Linked DNA regions of Homo sapiens: region 1 is linked to region 2. The links come from fine-mapping of genetic effects on gene expression. A gene starts in region 2. The other region holds a variant in brackets. All regions are shown on one strand. Distances are from middle to middle.

Region 1 (2,892 bases), 20 kb before region 2:
GCGGGGGGGCCCACCAGGGGACAGGCCATGAGCCAGGCGATCCCCACTTCCAGCCCCCGCACGAACTGTGCTGGCCTGGGTCTGGTGCCCCAAATCTGGGTCCTCTGAGTCCACTGCTCCAGCCCAGGGAAGGGCTCTGTGGGACCACCTGACCCCCCAGACAGGCCTTCCGCGCTGCCAGCCACATGTCACCATGGTTCCTGTTCTCCCCATCCTGACCCAGGCCAGGGCCAGGGCCTCTCAGGTTGCCCAGTCTGCCTGGCTGCCTTCCAAGCTGTGCCCATACCTCCCAGTGGCACCGCCTCTCCCACCTTCCTTGCCCTGTGGGTGCAGAGCCCCAGCACCACTTTCTTGTTATTTGAGGGGGCGTTCAGTCCAGGGAACAGAGGGGAGGTCTGTACTCAACCAGCTGCGCCCACCTGGAAGCCCCGCCTGGAGCTCCTTGGCGTGGAGGGCACTGGCCGCACTCTGTCGCAGGCCTGCGGGTTCTTTTCCACATGGTGAGCGTCTGGCTCGGCTGCCCTGCCTGAACAGTCCAAGAGAGTAGTCGTGCCCCTCACAGGCTGGTGTCCCGCCCAGAGACAGGCAAGTGCCCACGCCATGTGGCCCTGGCCCTGAGGAGGAGGGAGTCCTAGGACGAAGGGGACGCCTCTGAGCGTGTGCAATGCTACATGTGTAACTGAACATCGCCCAAGGGCTGGAAGCCAGCCCCCTGCCTGCACACGCCTGCAATCTACTGTCTGCACATGGAAGCCGGAAGCAGCACGAGGGAACCTTCCTGACAGTGGCACCTCCCAGCAGTGGCACTCGGCCAGGCGCCCACGGAGGCACTGCAGCCTCCCGCCCCGGGTTGCCTGCCAGCTGGCTGTGTGGGGCCAGCAGTGCCATCTGCCGGCCGCCCCTCCACTACACAGACCAGGAGGGACACAGGACCTCCCCCAGCCATGGTTCAGCGTCAGCTGAGGAACCTCCCTCTGCACCTGTTTCCCTACAGTCCACATGCTGGGATGCGTAAAGTGCTGCCCCGCACTCAGGAGGCTCAGCCACAGGAGTGGCGCCCCATTCCGGCAGTACCCAAGTGGCC[T/G]TGCTCTGCAGGCGGGCAGGCCCTGCCCAGCAGGGGCAGTGAGGCAGACTCAGAAGACACCCAGGTCATTGCCTGTGCCTCCAACAAACAGGCCTGGCCCTCAGACCTCCCAGGAAGCTGCGGGGGAGCAGATGTCGCACCCCATGCTCCTCGGCCCCAGGTGGTGGCAGATACCGCAGGGAATGGCCCTCGACAAGCGCAGCCAGGGAAGCCCGGAGCCCAGCATGGCTACGTCAGAGGTGGCGCGCTAACCTTCCCCCCGCTGCCCCCTCTGATCCCAAGAACCCCACGTCACCGCTGCCACCAAGCCTGAGGTCCAGGAAGGCAGCTTCTCCCAGGTGAGCCTGCAGCATCCAGATGGAACACCAAGGGCCCGAGTGCCCCAGGCCTGCCGAGTGGGCAGGGCTCCTAGGAGAAGGCAGCCATCGGGCCACTGGCTCCAGGGGATCGGGGGCTCAGGAGCCCTGCAGGCAGGCACAGAGAGGTCTGTGAAGCACCCAGCACCCCACCCCACTCTCTGCTGGAACCATGTGTCCACTGGTGGGGACAACCTGCCCTCCCTCAACACCCTTAGAAAGTCTCCAACCAGGAGGAGGAGAAGGGACGCTGGGGGACCCACCCACCACCCCTGAGGACAGCGAGAAGGCTCCCAGGGTGTGCGGGCGCCCTACACCTCCATGGCCATCTACGGCTCTGTCTCCCGAGCTGATGGGACGGAGGCTGTGCCGAGGCAGTGGAGGCCAGGAGTGGCTGGGGCTGAGGGGCCCATGTGTCACCACCCCCCAGGAAGGATCTGGTGCTGCCAGGCTCAATGCATGGGCACAACCACGTCCCCCGACCAAACAGCAAGCAACTGCCAAGGACTCATGGCAGACACAAACCAGGTGGGAGCAAGGGCTGCCTGAGTGACCAGGGAGGGCGCTTCCAGCCACGCAGACACCTCAGGGTTGGGGGCAGAGCTCACAGCCCTGCAGGGCTGCCTGAGTGACCAGGGAGGGTGCTTCCAGCCATGCAGACACCTCAGGGGTGGGGGCAGAGCTCACAGCCCTGCAGGGCTGGCTGCCAGGGTTCGGGCAGGGCAGGGGCACCGAGTATGGCTTTCTGCAGCCTTTGGTTGGTTTCAGAATCACACCATTCCGCTCGGGCTCCCCAGGGGACACTGGCATCTTCAGGGGACCCAGCACCCACAGACCAAGTGTAGAGTGGGCAGGCAGCTCAGGGCAGCTGCGCTGGGTCCTGCATGAGGCCACCAGGCCCCTCACTCAGTATCTCCAAGGAGGAGCCACGGTGCAGGTGACAGTGGACGGAGTCACTGAAGGGCCTGTGCAGTGGCCAGTCCAAGATCAGCCCCGAAAGGGGGCCACCCACACTGGCCACCCACAGGGCAGGAGCTGGCGTAGCCCCCACCCACTACCCCCCTGCAGCAACACCAGGGCCCCCCAGTACCTTGTTGAGCTCCTCGATTCTCCGGATCAGGTATGGGTTGCTGGAGGAGTTCTCAAAGTAGACGTAGTCTGCAAACAGCAACAGAGAGAGTGCCACCTGTGGCACCAAAGGCCAGACCCAGTCCCACCTCCCGTGGCCCAGGGACTCGGGGCTCAGGCGGGGCAGTGTCATCCCCTCACCTCTGCTCCCTCAGGCGAGGAATAAACAGAGGAAGCGAAGCCCCCACACCATCAGGGAGGGGTGGCTGCAACCAAAATGGACTGACAGGCTGGGTCAGGGACAGGGAGATGCATCTGGAGGGGCCGTTCCCAGCAGGAGCAGACAGCCCCCATCCCGGATCCTCACAGACGCCAGCTGCCCCC
Region 2 (2,892 bases):
AGGGTCACAGGCAGGGAGGGGTCTCAGAGTCCTGGGGAGGGAGGCGCTGATGGAATGATGGAATGCACACGACCCCCCACCTTCCTGTGAAAGACCCCACGGAGTCCCAGGCACACGAAGGAGGGCAAGGCTCAAAGCTGCAGGCCCGGGGGGCCCGAGCAACAGGAGGCTGGGCCCACGGAGGAAGCCCCTGCCCAGGAGGCCCTCCGGCCTCTCCCCAACCCTTGCAAAGCGCCTCCCGAATGGGCTGAGGTGAGCGAGAGGCAGGGAAAAGTTTGGGGGGACTTAGAGGCGTGCTCGGGATGCTCGCTCCCTGCTGAAGACCCCCTGAGGGATCCCTGCTGGGGGAAGCCCCGGGGCCAGGCTGCAGGAGGGCTCTAGGGAGGAACGTGGCCCCTCACCGGGGCTCCCCATCCCCAGAGGGGATGCACCGGAGTCCCAGCACAGGGCCGCGGGCCGGGGGAGACCCCACAGCCCCAAAACTCCTGCTCCCAGACCGGCAGCCGGCGCCTCCCAAGGCCACGTGCTCCCGCTGGGGGCTCCCGGCCCCGGACCCCCGGATGTCCCGCAGGCCCCGCGCCCCCCCGCCACCCCCGCGGCCGCCCCCTCGGCCCCAACAGGTGGGCCGCCCCCCACCCCCGGGCCGCCGAGCCCCGCCCGCCCCCGATGGGGCCGACCCGCGGGGCCATTTTGGGTTGGGGTGAGCACGGCGGGGGGCGGTTCGGGAAGGAGCCGGGGGCCGCGAGGGCGGGCGGGGGGCGCGGGGCCTGCGGGGCAGAGGGGCGGGGGAGGCGGCAGCGGCGGCGGGTGGGGGCTGCGGGCGGGTCGGGGCCGGGCATAAAGGCGGTGCGGCCTTACCTCCGACCCTGTACATGTTGGCGGCCATGTCCGGGCCGGCGGCGGCGGAGGGGCCCGGGGCGGGCGCGGCGCTCGGCGCGGGCGGCCGGGAAAATGGAGGCGCGATGGCGGGGGCGGGGGGCGCCGCAGGCGTTTAAAGGGGCCGCGCTGCTGCCGCCGCCGCCGCCGCCGCCGCCGCCGAGGCCGCCGAGGCCGCGCAGGGACGGGAGGGCCGCGGCGCGGGCGGGAGAGGAAGAGGAGGAGCGGCCGCGGGCGGCGGGGAGGGGCCTCGGGCGCCGCCGCCCACCGCACGGGCCGTTACCGACCCCGCGCCGCCCGCGGCCCGCGCGCCCCTTCCCGGACAGTTCCTCTCGGCGCCCCCGAGTCCTCCCCGCGCGCCGCTTCCCGGGTGGGCCCTTCCACCAGAACCCCCTGGTAGATCCTCCCCTGGTGCCCTGGGGGTAGAGGGGAGATCCTCCACAAGGGCCATTTCCCTGGTGATCCCTCCCTGTGCCCCACAGGTGAGTCCTGCCGTAGCTCTCCAGGGGTTCCTCCTGATGCTGGGGTCCTCCGGCATTCCTCCCTGAGCCCCCCAAGGGCCCTGAAGCTCAGCGGCCCAGCCCTGGCCTCGGGGTCCCCACCCCACACCTCCCTTCCAGGCCTAACCTTTGCCCCCGACACCAGGCAGGGCGTGTCCTTGGCCTTCGCCGCCCAGCCCGCGTGGCATCTCTGGACAGGTGGTCGTGCGCGCCTTGGTGTGGGCAGGCTCCGTAGCCGGCAAAGCCTCCCTGAACCGTGACCTGGTGAGAAGGCCGCAGAGGAGGTGCCTGTGCCCAGAGGCCACCTCCAAAGACCCCACCTGAGGCTGGAACCCAGCGCCTGCTGACCCCGCCAGCCCCAACAGGGCTGGAGTCCAGGAGCGGCCGTGCTCTTTCCGCAGTGAGGCAGCTGCCTTCTCTTCCCACCACCTGTCAGGATGCCTTCCCGTGTGTGCTTGTGCACAGGTCTAAGGAGAGGAGAGTCCAGTGAGTGACCCAGACGCCCCAGCCAGGAAGAGCATGAGGTGCGAAGGGGGCTTCCCAGATGGAGAGAAACAGATGGTCCCAGAGTGGCTTGGAGACAGGTGCAACATCAGTGTTGGGGGAGGTGAGCAAAAGGAGCTGTCTCGGGGTTCCAGGCTGCTGATGTGAGCAGCACCGTGGGTCTCTGTCCTGCCTGCTCAGATGCTGGAGGGAGCTGACATCTACTTGGGACATCCCTCTCTGTAGGACATGGAGCGGAGCGTTCAGGGCTATCAGGAGGGAGCCCCGTGGCCACGGTGCAAGATCTAGGCAGGCGGGACAGACATGGTCAGGATGCTGGGGACACAGCATGGGGAATCCAGCACACAGGACACCATCCAGGTGGGTAGGAAACAGCATGTGCTGGGAGGAAAGCCAGGTGGGGGTCCCAAGGAGAGCGGTGGCCACAATGTCATGGCTGCAGAGCAGACCAGTAAGGAAAGCCCCACCAGGGTTAGCACAGGGCCAGGAACCCGAGCTGCAGGGCGGTGCTGTCTCTGGGGAGAGAGGGCTATGGGTCCCAGGACACATCCTGCGGGCTGGGCTGCAGGGAACAGGAGCTGGCTTGCTGGTGATTGGGAGGGAAGAGCAGCCAGCCAGCGGCCAGGTGCAGGAGAGGGGCAATGACAGACAGGCAGCGTCTCTCCAGAAGGAAGGTGGGGCTGCTGGCCTCCCCTGTCCTACAGCCCCAGCCTACCTCTGTCTCCTCAGCAGGAAAGCAAAGCTGCAGCCTGAGATCTCCTTCCACCAACTCCTGGCATGGCCAGAAAGTTAGCCAGAAACACCAGAAAGTGCCAGGCAGCTAGGAAGCATGGGGAGAGCCCCCTGAAGCTGCGTGTGTAGTGCCTGCTTCCGCTGCCATCCCAGAAATGGACGAGCTTCACCCTGAGAACCCAGCCACACCACTGGGACACATCCTGACAGTGACATGCACACTCTTCCCTGGCCCCAGCCTGGAGAGGAGCCTCCTGAAGACACCAGCCTTTGCTCCTTC

Alleles and levels. Positions count from the first base shown, and alleles are read on the strand shown. Sizes are in standard deviations (SD) of each study's normalised expression.
In carriers of allele T in region 1, the expression in fibroblasts of the gene that starts at base 1,183 in region 2 tends to be lower than with G alone (small effect, 0.26 SD a copy in GTEx).

The links. PIP is the estimated chance that this variant, and not a neighbour inherited with it, causes the effect.
Region 1: its variant is the best candidate, but not a certain one, in a credible set for the expression of MTA1-DT in fibroblasts (GTEx, PIP 0.71).

The regions. Positions count from the first base shown.
Region 1 is chr14:105,438,378-105,441,269 of GRCh38, reverse strand. MTA1 (metastasis associated 1) reads right to left here. Exons shown (of 21, transcript NM_004689.4): 2 at 2,531-2,598. Among named protein-coding and RNA genes, the nearest start is that of MTA1, 20 kb to the right of the region's middle. The variant T/G (reference allele first, on the strand shown) is at 1,085.
Region 2 is chr14:105,418,030-105,420,921 of GRCh38, reverse strand. It overlaps MTA1-DT (MTA1 divergent transcript), which reads left to right and starts at 1,183. Exons shown (of 2, transcript NR_125385.1): 1 at 1,183-1,900; 2 at 2,613-2,892. MTA1 (metastasis associated 1) reads right to left here and starts at 1,095. Exons shown (of 21, transcript NM_004689.4): 1 at 859-1,095. The coding sequence starts at 886. RefSeq lists silencers at 1,002-1,261, 1,352-1,401, 1,432-1,531 and an enhancer at 2,229-2,892.